2 separate regions of the Homo sapiens genome follow, and region 1 is linked to region 2. Evidence: fine-mapped expression QTL. Tissue or cell type: whole blood. Region 2 holds a variant in brackets; the other region holds the start of a gene. All regions are shown on one strand. Distances are between the middles of the regions.

The links. PIP is the estimated chance that this variant, and not a neighbour inherited with it, causes the effect.
Region 1: it holds the start of NAPB, and the variant in region 2 is fine-mapped to the expression of NAPB in whole blood (TOPMed, PIP above 0.99). The same link has a PIP of 0.9 or more in B cells, monocytes, monocytes after LPS, monocytes after triphosphate RNA and prefrontal cortex.

What each region holds. Positions count from the first base shown.
Region 1 is chr20:23,417,150-23,425,317 of GRCh38, forward strand. NAPB (NSF attachment protein beta) reads right to left here and starts at 4,339. Exons shown (of 11, transcript NM_022080.3): 1 at 4,156-4,339. The coding sequence starts at 4,253. RefSeq lists silencers at 3,328-3,557, 4,188-4,277 and an enhancer at 4,528-4,717.
Region 2 is chr20:23,371,310-23,379,477 of GRCh38, forward strand. It overlaps GZF1 (GDNF inducible zinc finger protein 1), which reads left to right. Exons shown (of 6, transcript NM_022482.5): 6 at 1-1,753. It overlaps NAPB (NSF attachment protein beta), which reads right to left. Exons shown (of 11, transcript NM_022080.3): 10 at 8,136-8,168; 11 at 3,213-6,177. The coding sequence ends at 6,067. Among named protein-coding and RNA genes, the nearest start is that of GZF1, 13 kb to the left of the region's middle. The variant C/T (reference allele first, on the strand shown) is at 3,477.

The sequences.
Region 1 (8,168 bases), 46 kb after region 2:
CTCAGCTCACTACAACCTCCACCTCCAAGGTTCAAGTGATTCTCCTGCCTCAGCCTACCAAGTAGCTGGTATTACAGGCGCCCGCCACCACGCCAGGCTAATTTTTGTATTTTTAGTAGAGACGGGGTTTCATCATGTTGGCTAGGCTGGTCTCAAACTCCTGACCTCAAGTGATCCACCCGCCTCGGCCTCCCAGAGTGCTGGGATTACAGGCGTGAGCCACTGCACCTGGCCTCCACTGTCAGTCTTAAGCACTTTCTTCTATGTGCATTGTGCAGGTTATTCCCAACCGGGTCTCATAGCAACAAGATGGAGGGGATAGTATTATAAGAGGCTTTTCCAATTCAAAACTATCTTAATGTCAGACTCAGGCCGATTTAAAATCATACCAGTAGTTCATTAACATTATAAACTGGAATTTGAAATTAACTACAAAATTCCATAGCTCATCCCTGGCAACAAACTAAAGGACAAGACAACTCCTTTGGAAGTAGTTTTACTAAACGTACTATACTACAAACTTGAGAAAAAGTTTTAATTCCACAACTACAAAAGCACATTACTGCTTAACGGGCAATTAAGCAGAAACACAAACCACCACAACAGTGGTTTCCTGCAATGTTTGCATCCCTTGTCAGCTCTTTTCCTGGGGAGGAAGGTGGGGATGGGAAAGGAATATTGATACCTTACCTATCAAGCAGATAAGGCAGAGGATTTGTGCCTTACACAGAGAAGAAATATTTGACTGACATGTTCTCATAAATACATATGCATATTTTCATCTAATTTTACTGAAAGCAAGAAACAAAAGCTATAGAATACTACTAAGAATACAGTATTGCCACAAAACCACTGTGAGTGGTAAACACTAGAGAACTCATGACAGGCTTTAATCTGCAGATAGAGCATTCAGAATGTCTGTGATGTGAAATATCTGCAATATGCCAAGCAGCTTTTAATGACTGCCACAACCTGAAAACAGATGGCTTATCCTCTTTAAAGCACCAGCTAGTCAGCTCTTAAATATATGAGCTCTGATGATATTCAAGTCAGTATGTGTGTTTTATTAATTTTGTATTACATTAATTCTGGAGTCTGACATAGAGATGGATTACTCTGCGTTTTAAATAAAGGATTACATGCAGACCTTTAGGAATGAAAATGGTGACATTCTATAGCTAAGAAGGCAGGGGCAGGGTGGAATAACATGTATTCCAGTCTAGAAAGGTGATGATACATGCCATCTATAAGGTAGGATTCTAAACATCTAAAATTGATACAGAATCTTAATTGTCCTACTGACACAGGAACACTACGTCTGTTTTCTGGCTTCAGTAATTATACAATATTACTAAACTCCTAAAATTCTAAGTACTCTTCTTCCTGCAAGCTTTCCTGGAGCAAGTATTACTGGAAATAACAGTCTTCAAAGTATAAATCACACTTGCATGGTACATTAATGGTTAAAGCTCTTTCAGATATTTTATTTCATTAAAAGATCAATGAGGCTGGGCGTGCTGGCTCACGTCTGTAATCCCAGCACTTTGGGAGGCCAAGGCAGGTGGATCACGAGGTCAGGCATTCGAGACCAGCCTGGCCAACACAGTGAAACCCCGTCTCTACTAAAAATACAAAAAAAAAAAAAAAATTAGCCGGGCGTGGTGGCGGGTGGCTGTAATCCCAGCTACTCAGGAGACTGAGGCAGGAGAATCGCTTGAACCTGGGAGGCGGAGGTTGCAGTTAGTTGACATCCCGCCACTGCAATCCAGCCCGGGTGACAGTGTGAGACTCCGTCTCAAAAAAAAAAAATCAATGATGCAGTCTACGGCTCTGAAATTCTGGAAAAGTTATCTGTTTGGCCTACTGCTTCTTTGATAAATAACTGGAGCTGATAATTTTGATGAATATGCTAATTAATATCTCATGGTCACTGTCTCCAACATCCATGGTTCCAAATGTTTTATAAACATAACCTCACTGAACTCCCATAAATTTTGAGATATACTATTATTGTCTCCGTTTTATACACTGGAAACTGAAGCACAGAGAGGCTAAGTAACTTGCCCTAGGTCCCAAAGCTAGATAATAAACCAACCTGTTGTACCCAGGTAAGAACTAAGATGCATTAACTTTTGTGTAACTGAGTGTGAATGGTGAAGATTCGTCTTCTTATATGTCCTGTCAATAACATAGGTAGCAACATTTAAAAGGGAGATGTTTCTTTAAAAACAAAGGCTTTTCAAAATCCTTTAAGGATTATAAGCTCAAGATTTGGCCTAGTTTCCTAAAAACATCGAAAACCTCTTTCCCAAAAGGAGTGTTCTCCTGAGACAAGCACCAAGTGCTGTCAAGCTTTTTCCTCTGCCAGTTACAGACTCTCCCACAGGGAAGCACTTCCTGACTTGAAATAATGTTGTAACATTAAAATAACCTCCTGGCATGAGGTACTATGACATTAAATTTTATTAGAGTGAATTTTAAATGTTTTGTGAATCAAAACATTTAAAAGGAGTTAGTGTGGCGCTAGCACTTGATGGTACTGTCATAACTTTTAAATGCAAAACAAAACATAATTCATAGCTATATCTCCTACACATCACATGAGAAATTTAGAAACCAGCTGTGATAAACGTCCTCTGAGAGGTTCCTGAGGACAGGGACCCTTATCTTCTTGCATTTTTGCAGCCTTTATGCATTTCTGCAGTTATGCGTACTGCATGCAACTTGTCCTTAAGCATTTCCTAAAGACGTATCAATAGCGGTAAAGTATTATAATTTATAGCCAAAAGAATGAAGTTGGCAAAACAAGCTAAGAGCCCATTATGTCTGTCTTCTGAAATAGAGTCTGAACTGAATGTGTACAGAAATAAAATCGTGTCTAGTCATGCAATGGGTTAAGTATCTGCTCTTGGTAACAGCAAAGGATCTTTCACTTTCAAAAGAAAACAACGAAACAGGCACACACAAAATTTCTGCCTTTCTCATCCTAAACAGCTGAATCATTCACATATTCAACAGCCCAGAATTCTTCCGGGCTGTCAGTGCGGGCTCTGCTTTTTGAGAGGTTGGAATTTAAAATCCTCCTTAGGAGAGCACGGAAGAATTACAGGAAATTAAAGGGATTCCCAAAGGACGCCTGACTTAAACAGCAGCAGCGTTACCGTTAATCAAACAGGAGGCTCTGGCTATCAATCAATCTCCGGAGAAGGAAAAATACTATGCTGAGAAAATATATTCGTTCATTAGTCAAGTATTTACTAAAGGTGTACTCGGCGCAAGGCCCCTGGAGAGAGGCCAACAAGCACACCAGCTCTGGATCCCTCGCCGGACCGCCCCCTCCCCGGCGGGGCCCACCTGCAGGCGGGACGCCCCCAGGTGCGCGTTCCAGGCGCCGGGGGCGGCCCCCGCACCCACCCCTCCGGCTCCACCCCGGCGCGCCTCACCCGGACCGGTCTCAGGAGCGATACGGGCTTCAGCGTGGCGAAATGCACCAATACGACTCGCTACGCACTGAGAAGGGGGCCCCACGCGCGCCCCGAGCTACCGCGCCCGCGGGCCTCAGGGAGCCGCTGACCTTCTAGGTCGTGGGACCCCCGCACCAACCCGGGCCAGGGCGAGGGGGGCGATCTGGGGTCTCCAGAGGGCGCGTGAGGCTGACAGCCCCCCCCCCAGAGTGTTCTAGGGGCTTCGTGGGGCGCTTGGGGAGCTCTGGGGGTCCTAGGGGTTCTCTGAAAGGCGCGTGGGGGCTGAGGGTCCCTGTGAGACTCTGGGGATTCTAAGGGGGCGTGTTAGGGGATCCGGAGAGCGTGTGGGGGCTGAGGAACCCTGGGGAGTTCTGCCGGCCCTAGGGGGTCTCTAAAGTGCGCGTGGGGGCTGAGAGCCCCTGGGAGGATGCGGGGTTTCCAGGGACCCTGGGGGGGCCTGTGGGGTCTCTGGAGGGCGCGTGCGGACTGAGGGCCCCTGGGCGTCCTGGGGGCTCCAGGGGGCGCTGGGGGACCCTACAGGATTTCTGGAGGGCGCCTGCAGGCTGAGGGCCCCTAGACGTGGTCTGAGGGCCCCAGAGGTTGCGTGGGGGACTCGGGGGGTCAGCCTGAAAGGAAGGGGGCCAAGTACGGAGACCCCCCCCCCCCAGGGCACGCACGGTCTGGCGCTCACCCAAACAGCCCTCGGAGGAAGGAGTGGGAGGCCTTGACTCGCTTCTCGGCCTCCGCCATCAGCTGTACTGCCTCACGCTCCTTCCCCGCGTTGTCCATGTCGCCCGCCGCGGCCGCCACAGCCCCCTCAGCCGGCTCGCTGTGCGCCCAGGCGCCTTAACCCTCCCTCTGGCGGCCGCAGGGACGCAGGCGCAGGCGCGACGCGCGAGGCCTTTCGGGAGCTGTAGTCCGGGTCCTGTCATGGCGGCGGGGATTCGCGAGCCGCCTACTACAGTTCCCAGGAGGCCCCGGGGCGGGGTGTGTGTGAGCCGAGCTTGCGCACCGCTAGCTCCCAGGACGTCGGCGCAGGGGGCGTGACCCCCCCAAAGGGGTCCTGGGCCAAGGTGAACTTTAATTTTGTATGTATGCAGAAATGGAAAAATGATCCGTGGCCTCTAGTAAAGATCACCTCCTCAGTAAGACTCGCATGGCAATGGGATGGATGAAGGAACAGGGGATAACAGATTGGATGGAACCCACACCCTTCATGCAAGTTCTGCAAAAGAGAATCTGGTGTAGCCACCAAAGCATCACATGCTTGATACCGCCCACCAAAAAACGAGCAACAGCTGGCAATAAGAGCCATTTTTATCTCCAAGAGCAAGACGTCCCCAATATAAGTTCAGTTATTTTTAAATCTCCCCAAACTGTAACTTTCTGTTGGTCCTCTCTTCCTTGGTTATAAATGAGTTGCATATATGCAATATATGCATAATCCACTCTTTTGTTGACTGAATTATATTCAATGGATGTGAACCATTGAACTCTTATCCTTTACATAATACTGGCCATAGTGGATGGATCTCCAGGGACAAAATGTTTGCCTGCCAGGAAGACTTCTAATCTCCTAGGAGAAGTATCCATAGATAGATGGGATCCTGTGCCAGAGACTTTCAGGCCTGTCCCAGAGGGAGTTATTTTTGAAGACAATGTCTAGACCATTCAAGCTTGGCAGTGCTAAGGCAGAGATGCTGAAACTAATAAGAAAATCACTGCCAAGTGAGATTTATGACAGTTTCAAACTGTTAATAAATACACTCTGGGCACTGGCATGCAAAATTTTAGAAAATGAAGACTGTCTGTAGAGGGCAAGGCAAGAGGGGCCAAACTCCTAGAAAGAAAGTTGACTAAAGCACATGTCACAGAGTTCATACATTTCAGGACTCCGTAGAGATAGAAAGAAATCTCAGCTCTTCGTGCAGTTTATTTACGATTACTACATGCATTATTCTAACTTTGAAAAGCTGAGCTGTGTGTTTTTGGAGAGAGAAGGAGGCGGGAAATTGGAGGTGACCGTAAATGCAGGGGAGACCAGAGAAAAACTGTAAAAAGTGAACATAAGCATTTGGAAAGCAGAGCAGTCTATGGGGGCTTAATGGAGTGAGGCTAAGTCAAAAGCTCCTAAGTAAATCAGTGTGTTGATTAAATCAGTTGTTCCCTAACGTGGTTCGATGCAGAAGCTCTAATGGATATTTAAGAAATACTGATTCCTAGGCCACTGGGTTTTGGTATCAAGGTCTCTTGCAGCTGGGGTCTAGAAAATGCACATTTTGAAAAGAACTCTCCATCCCTATCCTAAAGCACACAGTTCTAGATTCTCATATCTGTAGTCAGTTGAAAAGGAGCTGGAACAGACTGCCTCCCCGAAGCTAGCACTTGCAATTAAGAGAGACATTTTTGGTGGTTTCTAGTAATTTCCTTCATTCTCTTCTTTGTCACAGGAAATTTGTGGGCACTCCCACCGTTCTGCCAGTCCACACCAAAGTGGGAGAAAACCTTCAAACCTTAATTACTGGGTAGAGCTAGTGTTTTATTCTCCCAAAGGCTGGGGGAGGAAAGGAGGCAGGGCAGAGAGATGAACCTCACAGAATAAGGCCTGACTAGAGAGACAGCTGAGGAATCCTTGAAACAAGAAGGAAAAGGAAAGGAGAAGCACCCCTGGTGTGGATCAGGAGAAGAATAGAAGTCATCTTGGAGAAGAGCCAAAGGACCCACTGCCCACACCTGCGCTGCCCAGGATGGAGCCACTCACCACTGGTGGCTATTTACATTCAAGTTAAATAATATTAAATAAAATGTAAAGTTCCATTTCTTGGCTGTACTAGCCGTATTTCAAGTGCTCAATAGCCACACATAGCCAGTGGCTACTGAAAGAGTTATAAATATAGCATCCTGGTGGATTGACTAAGTTAGACACCTGGTGGATTGACTAAGTTAGATACTTGAGGGCGGTGGCTCACGCCTGTAATCCCAGCACTTTGGGAGGCCAAGGCAAGCGGATCACTTGAGGTGAGTAGTTCAAGACCAACCTGGCCAACACAGTAAAACCCCATCTCTACCAAAAATACAAAATTTACAAAAAATACAAAAATTAGTTAGGTGTCGTGGTGCATGCCTGTAATCCCAGCTACTCAGGAGGCTGAGGCAGGAGAATCACTTGAACCTGAGAGGTGGAACAGAGGTTGCAGTGAGCCGAGATTGCACCATTACACTCCAGCCTGGGCGACAGAGTGAGTGAGACTCTGCTCAAAAAAAAAAAAAAAAGTTAGACACCCAAAAAACGACAGGTGCAAGAAGATTATTTTGACTTTTTCTTTTCTTTTTTGCATACAGAATACACACTGGACACTTTGACCTCTTGTTTCTTTCTTTCTTTTTTTTTTTTTTTTGAGACAGAGTTTCACTCTGTTGCCCAGGCCAGAGTGCAGTGGCTCACTGCAAGTTCCGCCTCCCAGGTTCACGCCATTCTCCTGCCTCAGCCTCCCAAGTAGCTGGGACTACAGGCACCCACCACCACACCCGGCTAATTTTTTGGATTTTTAGTAGAGACGGGGTTTCACTGTGTTAGCCAGCATGGTCTCGATCTCCTGACCTCGTGATCCACCAGCCTCGGCCTCCCAAAGTGCTGGGATTACAGGCGTGAGCCACCGCGCCTGGCCCCAACCTCTTGTTTATTTAAAGGCAAGAGATGAAATTCCCATATGAAAGATGTCCCTCTTATACTAGAACTAAAGCAACATTCTTATCATCAAAGACAGGAAGTTGAGGCTAAGAGAATTCTGTACAAACCCTATTAAACTAACCCTTATCTTCTTAGTCACTTTTCTATCCAATTAACTACCCTAGCCCAAGCCCCTCTGCCTCATCACATTTTCAGTTTACTATTCTTTGTCCAATTCAGTAAATAAGTAACACACTCTAACTGCCTCTTTGGGTTTTCATTTCCTTATGAGGCCTCCCATGCCATGTAAAACTTGTATCAAATACACCTGTGTGCTTTCCTGCTATTAACTTGTCTTATGTAAGTTTAATTTTCAGACTCCACCAGGAGCCTGAGATGCCCCCCTACACTACTATATGGACTGCACAGACAGAGAACAATTTTATCATTCCACAAGTCCTAGTGGATGGCACTAGCCTCTATGTGCTTTGCTTTTCAGAAGTTCTGGACACTTGTAAGAAAAGAAGAAAAAGGCTTCAGGGAGTTTCTGAGAAGGCAGAGCAGGAAAGGAGCGTAGCCTGAACAAGGCAGAGCCAACAGTACTGCTGGCTTTTCCCTGTGAGAAGATGGAGGTGGACACCTGGACACTCAGACTGAATCAGCACATACCCCGAAAGATGATCCATCAAGACAGGGCTGAAGCTACTTGAGAACCCCAATACTAAGAAAGCCAGAGTCAGAAAAGAACAGAATCGATATGGGGAAAGGGTGTAGCCATCTGTGTGTGTTCACAGAAGGGGAGAAAGCACCAGGCAAAGATCCAGTATGGAAAATTATGGGACATCACTGCTGCTTCACTGAAGCAAAGCAAGAAGGCTCACCCACATTAAAGGGGAGGGAAATGAGACGACATCTCCTGATGGGAGGGCCTCTGAGGATTTGCAGATGTTTTCACACCACGACAGCTAGGTTAGAGGGAGTCCGTGCTCACCCTGGTCCACTCTGGTTGCATTGACAAAGTTGGGAAGCTGGAG
Region 2 (8,168 bases):
GCAAATTATAGAACACAGAGTATTATTACTTTTGCCAGGTTTTTCTGACTTGATTTCTGTAATTTCCAGAAACCCAGACTTCTCATTTCCACACCTAGAGATGGAAACAGGCAAGTAACTGACATGTCTATTTCCTTGGGAGCATGTGAGAACATAGCAGTAGGGACCAAAAGTCTCAGCACACTTACCTCCGATTATGCCTTAAAGAGTTGATTGTGAAGAACCAGTAACTTTGTCCCAAATGCTTCTTTGGCTGTTTCATGCAGGACTTAATTATTGCTTTTAAAAATTCACAATGAAAAGACGATTCTGCTGTATTTGTTAAACGTTGACATTTGGTTCTAGGGCCTTGAGTATGTGCCACGTGCTTGTGAAATGCTATGATTCACATGTAACATTTAAACATTAATTTAAAAAGGGAACCTTGGAGAATTCTTTTGTTCACTAGTTCCTTTTTTCTCTACATTTTTAATTTATTAAACTTGCTGTGAAAACACTTTGATTTTCTAAGAGGAAGGTACTTTAAGTTCCAGAATGAACATGTAGCTGCACTATGCCAGAAATTAATGAGGGAAGACTTTCTTCCTAAGTGCTTATGTTTTAACTTATGTTAGTGAAACCACTACAAGGTGTTTCAGGCGCTGATAACATGCTTCACACCTGCCCTTGGAGGTCACAGTACTAATTTACTTCAAATTTAGTTATGACAGTGTCACTGTATCCTAGTTATGTTTACAGCACAAATAAATAATGACTGTCATACATCCAGAGGAGACCGAACCTGCCCAGCTGATGTACTGTTTTATGGAATAAAGTCACTTGATCAGAAGGAATTGAAACAATAGATCATTTTGTTACCTACTGGAGGGATTTTTGTCTTGAATTTGTTTCCTTAGAAATTCTACAAAAAAATGTTGTTAATAAATGTCTGCTTTGTAAAAGCAGTTTTGCAATTTTTTAAAGATCTATTTCTGTTATAATTTAGGTTCTGCAGAAATATGATTCTTAATTGAAACATATAATTTGCTTAATTACGTGAATAATGAAATGTAAAATCCGGGTCCATAAGCCTTTATTTCATACAGTCCTAGGATTAAGCTGTTTAACTGCTTGGATCCCAGTTGGTCTCTGGCAGTGGGATCCTGGAGAGGAGAAATCCTGGCCTCTGCTCATGCGCAGGCCACAACCGGGCTGGAAGTGCGGTTGAGCTCTCTGCCACTTTCTTCAATGTAAAAAGTAGGCATCAAAGATACGACTTCTACTATATACATTTCTCTGTCCCTGAGAACAGAGAAACGTAACCCTGTAGGGGACTGGTTACAGAGGACCTCCTGGAGCATCTGCCCCATTCCTCCAAGTCCAAGCACAGCCATGCTGAGTGGAAGCGAGGCCACCATCTGAGTGGATTGGTCCCAAGTGTGTAATGAGGAAAGTGGCCAGGTGCCGGCACAGTGCCTCTCCCAGAGCCTCAAGAAGGGCCATTTAGGAGCTTGCTTCAACCATTTTCCAACCATTTTCTGTGAAATGCTGTCAGCCCAAACTCCAAAGGGATGTGCAGCCTTTCGTTTTACCAAATTCTTTGCTGTCGTTTGGAAAAAATGGGCCATGTGGTGGAGACCTTTATTTAAGGTGATTTTTACAGAAATGTGATTTTGCTGTAGGTGATTATCCAAACAAGTAAATTTGAGTGTATAATTTAATTTTTAACCTGTTAAATAAACCTTGTCCCTCCAAGGAGTTCATTTTTGGGAAACAAGATGGGTACTTGTCAATTTAACCAAATGTCATGATATTCATGTACTCAGGAGTAACAATATTTCATTTGATGTGACTGAGAAAGGCACACAGGTCAGAGGATCATCTAGCACAGCAGTCCCCAACCTTTTTGGCACCAGGGACCACTTTTGTGGAAGACAATTTTCCCACAGGTGGGGGGACAGAATGGTTTCAGGATGATTCAAGCGCATTGCATTTATTGTGCACTTTCTATTATTATTGCATTGTAATATACAATGAAGTAATTATACAATGCACCATAATGTATAGTGGGAGCCCTGAGCTTGTTTTCCTGCAACTTGACAGTCCCATCTGGGGGTGATGGAAGACAGCAACAGATCATTAGGCATTAGATTCTCATAAAAAGCGTACAACCTAGATCCCGTGCACGCGCAGTTCAATAGGGTTTGCACTCCTATGAGACTCTAATGACACTGCTGATCTGACAGGGTGCACAGCTCAGGTGGTAATGTGAGCCACGGGGAGTGACTGCAAATACAGATGAAGCTTCACTGCCTGCAGCTCACCTCCTGCCGTAAGGCCCAGTTTCTAACGGGTTGGGGACCCCTGATCTATCACATCATGCTAAATGAGACTCAGAAAATCATCTGCATACCTTTGGCAATCCGTACGTGGACTCTTAACTAAGGCTGACAAAACTAAGCTTTTAAACTACCATGGTGGCATCTTCATTAGGAAATTGATTCTGAGAAGAGCCACTTGATTTAGGCTTTGAATGATCAACAACTCAGAATGCCTAGATGAGGACAGCTTGTTCTACCATTTAAAACATTTTGCTTTGACTTACCTGAAGTGTTGTGAATATACTTTAGGACCTGAAATCAAGGCTCTATGATAGGATGGTAGGATGAGCCGGTCTGCACTACCCGCCATGGGTCCTCTTCCTCATCAGAACTTCAGGCCCCAGTGGTCAGTGGGACTGACCCTTCCCCAGGGGCATCTCCTCTCCCTGTGCAGATATTTTGCAAAATTAAAATAAATGCCCACACTGACCAGATAGTTGAGTGGTACTTTCTTGGGGTAGGAGAGTGTCAGGCTTAGGGGTGCCTCACCTCCCCACCAGTCTTCCAGCAACCATGCCTTCCTCAACTTTGCAAGTAACTGTAGACCCTAAAGGATTCAAGGAAGGGATGAGAATGTGGGGTCTGCAGGGTTATCATGTACTTTAGTGGACTGCATCAACAGAAGTTACCAGGGTTTCCTTCTAAACCCTCAGTCTGCAAAACCATTACGGTGCCCTGGAATTCCCAACAAATGACCGGAGCCTAGAGAGTATTAACGTCTGTTGCCTTAATCTTAACGGGAACAACTTGAAACAATGGAAGCTACTTTTGACCTATGCCAATTTAGCAACAAGACTCATCAAAATATTACTGATAATTTCCACTTTATAGGTTAAAATAAAACAAGCATACTTTTTCTGCTAAGGTAGATTTATTGTTACACATGGTTAGTTTTCATAACGTAATCCCCTGCCCCAGAGCAACTCAGGACTCCATGGAGCAGGAAGCCTGCTCTTGGTCATAGCTCATACCACAGCAGGCAGGTCACGGGGGCATGCTGTGCTGCCAAGTCCTCCAAAGGAAGTCACAAAGGTTTGCATTTGGACATTTAAATCCACAAAATCAGGAGAAACAATAAATGCACAAGGGCTGGTGCATATACTTTGGTTACAGTGA[C/T]GCCACCACACACGGTCACGACTGTGCAAAAATACTGCTTTCAAATCATTAAATAAAAAAGAACTCACACAAGCTATAAAAATGTTGCCACAAAAAGCAAAACTTTCCTCTAAGAAATATTAACTGACTTTGACTATGAACTAACTCCAGATTTGCTAAAGTACAAGAATTGTACCATAAATAATTATATTTTGTTCATAAGTAACATTCTATAAATCTTGAAGACCTAGCTCACAGGCATCTTGAAACATGGCACTGTCCTACATCCATGGGACATTTAAAGGAAGTAAGTTTGCACACCACTAACTGGGCTTTTCTCTCATTCTTTTTTTTAATCTTCTGGCAGGTCTCTTCTAGCCATTACAATTACTTTGATTCTTTTCATGTGAAATATTAAAAACAAAAATTAATTCTTAACCCCGGAACTGGTCCCAGTGTTTATTGCAATACAAACAAGTGACCCTCTAATTGACACAACAAAATGTTACAAACATTATTGTTAAAAAAAAATACCCCTTCAGACGGGTCTGTTGGAGTATAATGATGAAAGCTAAACATAATTGCCCGAAAATAAATCATGTAGTTTTTACTTTAAGTGGTCAGACCAGAAGATTCTTTAAACAAGTAGAAACAAACTACTTAAAACCAGAGGACTCAAGCTGCAGAACCACTCCTCACACCCCATTTTCACAAAAGTGCATTTGGCTGGTTGTAGGATATATTATTAGGTGGGGAAACAAAACCCCACTTTTCTCTCTGATCATTTTTTCATAAGAGATTCTAAGAGGGAGTGAAAAAGTACCAACTGGACTCCATTCCAGGTCTTACCTCTAGAAGACAGCCAGCTCTCATTTAAGAATCTCAGAACTTGGAAGGAAGGAGGAAATCCACATTAAATTCTAGGGCCCAACAGACAGAGTGTCTTCATTGCCACCCCCAGTAGTGGGGACTACAGTGCACCTGTAGTCCCAGTAGATGCTCTGACATCACAGAGCTTCCTGCTCTACCAGCCCACCTCATGCATGTCACCACCATAACTATAGCCTGCAAGTCCTCGTGGCCACCTGATGTGGATCCTCTACAGTCTGTCCTTGGCTGGCCCTTCCCACTTCCTTTCCTGCTACTTTCTCTTTCTTCCTAGACTGACCTACTCATCATTTCTCAAACAACCTGCAGTCGACCCTTGGCCTGGAAACACTACCAATTCCAGTTGAGAGCCACCAAAAATGAAAACATCATTCCAATACTACTTACTACTACCTGACATAACATAGGAAGTTTCGTTACCTGTCATCAGTGAAGCTCCGTGATGTCAGAGTGTCTGCTGGGTTAAGTCTGGCAACACATTTCAAATATAAATCATTTAACTATAAATATTCAGAGGACATTCAGGAGACAAGCGTATGTCTAAAGTACAATATCAGCATATAAATTAATAGGATCAAGTTCATGAATCAAGATAGCATACATATATTATATAAACCAATTAAACACGACAGAGTTCAAACACATAAGCCAACATATTCCACCAGCTAAGAGAACAATCAAGTCCCCTGAGAAACAAGTTGGGGTTCTTGCCCACTTGGGCATACAGGACATTCCTGTACCACATTCACCCCACCTAACCCATCATGTACAATAAACAGGAAAATTACATACATTCATTCTCAAGCTTGACTTAGATAATCTATCCAGCCCTGACCAAGATTTCTATAGTCACAGCACAGAACACACCACCTCAACGTGGGAAAGTGTATAAACATGAAAATAATGAGCAGGCTATGCCAATTAAAATACTTCAATGTAAATATAAAGGGATTTCCACTCCAACTAAAAGTGAAAACTATCTCCAGAAAAAGAGAAAAATTCCATTTCTAACAGATCTTGTGATATGTGTGTGTGTGTAAACGCGTGTGTCTAAGTACAAATCAAATTCACTTTGACACTCATCCATACATGAAGCAAGTACTTCCAGAAAGCTCCCTTCCTCACAATGTGATGCCTACAGACCCTGGCTATTCTAAATTTTTGCCATGCACATGTTAGCATACGGAACAACACAAAAAGCAAAGAAACTAGTCACTAGCACCATCAAAATAATCACAGGATAACAAAAATAGAAATGATTTCTAATGAAGTTATAAACTCATTCCTAGTAACTGTCCTAAACTAAACACACATTTAAAGAACATATTCAGATGCCAAAGCACAGAGAAAATGCAAAGCATCTATGAGAACAACTGGGCTGAGTACTCAAGTCCAACAAAAAGGACATAAAAACACGTGGCAACATTAAACATAGGCTCCACAAATACCAATGAAATATGAGGAATGAGATTCTGAAGTACTTCTCAGAAAACGCTGGGGGTTCTGATAAGCATGAAACAACCCATCATTACCACAAGATGAACAGGAGCCTCTCCTTCATTCATTTCACAGCAACACAGACTTGGCGAGCTTAAACAATACACAGGCCGTCTGGCTCATATGCAACAAAATTAAGCCATTAAATAGGCATCCCATAAAGATCACTTGACCCTAAGACAAAACTAAAGAGGAGTTAGCTGCATGCCACAAAGACAAAAACATTTCATTTTAGGTCTCCATCTCCTTCTCCATCCCCTTGGATGGACTTTTTGATGCGAAGCAACATGGTGGTCAGCCACTGATCCAAGCGAGATATTGAGTCAAATTCCTTCACCTAGTATAAGGAAAGAGGAACAGGAATTACCCCATGTAAATACATTAAAAACACAAAATAATAGTACCCCAAGCTGTTTATACCTTTACAGCCATAATCTACTAACTTTCTTCATCATTTGAAATTAATCATTCCAGTTTATAACTTTCTTCATTAAAAAATTGTTTATTTTTTCATTATCCTGTTACTATTTTGATACTAGTGACAAGTTCCTGGGCTTGACATTTCTCTGTTTTCAAACGTGTAAGAAAAAAATTCATTAACAGTCATAATTATTGTGGCAAAAGTAACTGGATATTGTATAAAAATTTGAAAGGAATATGGAAAATTAATACTCACTGAACATGGGAAAACATTAATTACAGAGTTAGAATATGTATGGAAGCGGAATTAACACATTTCAATGCATTACCCAAAAATAAAATTACAATAGGATGAAAATGATGTGGTAGGCAAAAGTCAGACAGGAAAACATTCCTTTCCTCTATCACTCCTGAGCTGTGATGAACATGTTACAGGAGGCTACTGAGAAATTTGCTTGAGGCTGGATGTAGTGGCTCATGCCTGTAATCCTTGAAGTCTGGGAGGCCAAGGCAGGTGGATAGCTTAAGCCCAGGAGTTAAGAGACCAGCCTGGGCAACATGGTGAAACCTTGTCTCAACAAAAAATGCAAAAAAAAAAAAAAAAATTAGCTGGGGGTGGTGGTGTGCACCTGTAGTCCCAGGTACTTAGGAGTCTCAGGTGGGAGGATCACCTGAACCCAGGAGGTTGAGGGTGCAGTGAGCCGTGATCACACCACAGCACTCCAGCCTGAGTGACAGAGTGAGGATCTGTTTCAAAATATATAAAAACATTTTTTTTTGCTTGATTCTAAACATGAGATGGCAAAAGATGGAAAAACAAAAAGTATAAAGAAAAAAACCCTCATATTTTTAATATATATATATATTTATTATTTATTTATTTATTTTTGAGATGGAGTTTCACTCTTGTTGCCCAGGCTGGAATGCAATGGCGTGATCTTGGCTCACTGCAACCTCCACCTCCTGGGTTCAAGAGATTCTCCTGCCTCAGCCTCCCGAGTAGCTGGTATTACAGGCACACTCCACCATGCCTGGCTAATTTTTGTATTTTTAGTAAAGATGGTGTTTTGCCATGTTGGCCAAGCTGGTCTCAAACTCCTGATCTCAGGTGATCCACCCGCCTTGGCCTCCCAAAGTGCTAGGATTATAGGTGTGAGCCACCGTGCCTGGCCACCTTCCATTTATTTCATGCCACAAATACAGCAAATTCTCACTACTTAGTTTTTATATTTTAAATTATATTTAATTTTTTTTTTCTTTTTTTTTTTGAGACAGAGTCTCGCTCTGTCACCAGGCTGGAGTGCAGTGGTGCAATCTCAGCTCACTGCAACCTCTGCCTCCCGGGTTCAAGCGATTCTCCTGCCTCAGCCTCCCGAGTAGCTGGGACTACAGGCGTGTGCCAGCATGCCTGGCTAATTTTTATATTTTTAGTAGAGACGGGGTTTCACCATGTTGGCGAGGATGGTCTCAATTTCCTGACTCATGATCTGCCTGCCTCGGCCTCCGAAAGTGCCAGGATTACAGGTGTGAGACGCCGTGCCTGGCCTTAACTAATTTTACTTTATACTTATTTATGGGTCAGATTATTTTCAAAAGAAAAAATTAAAACAGCAAATTATAAGAATATAAATGGAATATTTGCTCCTGAACTAGTCTCACAGCTAAATTAGTTTTGAGTGTAAGTCGAATCTCAGCATGGCTAATGGAACTGTTTAATTTGTGTGATATATAAAAGGTGACGTTTGGAAAATACAACTTAAGGTATGCTGGAGTCATGTTCAAATAAATGTTTAGAATTCACATAATGAAAAGGAAAAGAAGTTTCTTTAACTTAAATCTTCAAATAATGTACCATGTCCCAAAAGCATAACTTACTGCTTCAGTGTAAGCTTCACTGTTCTGTTCTTC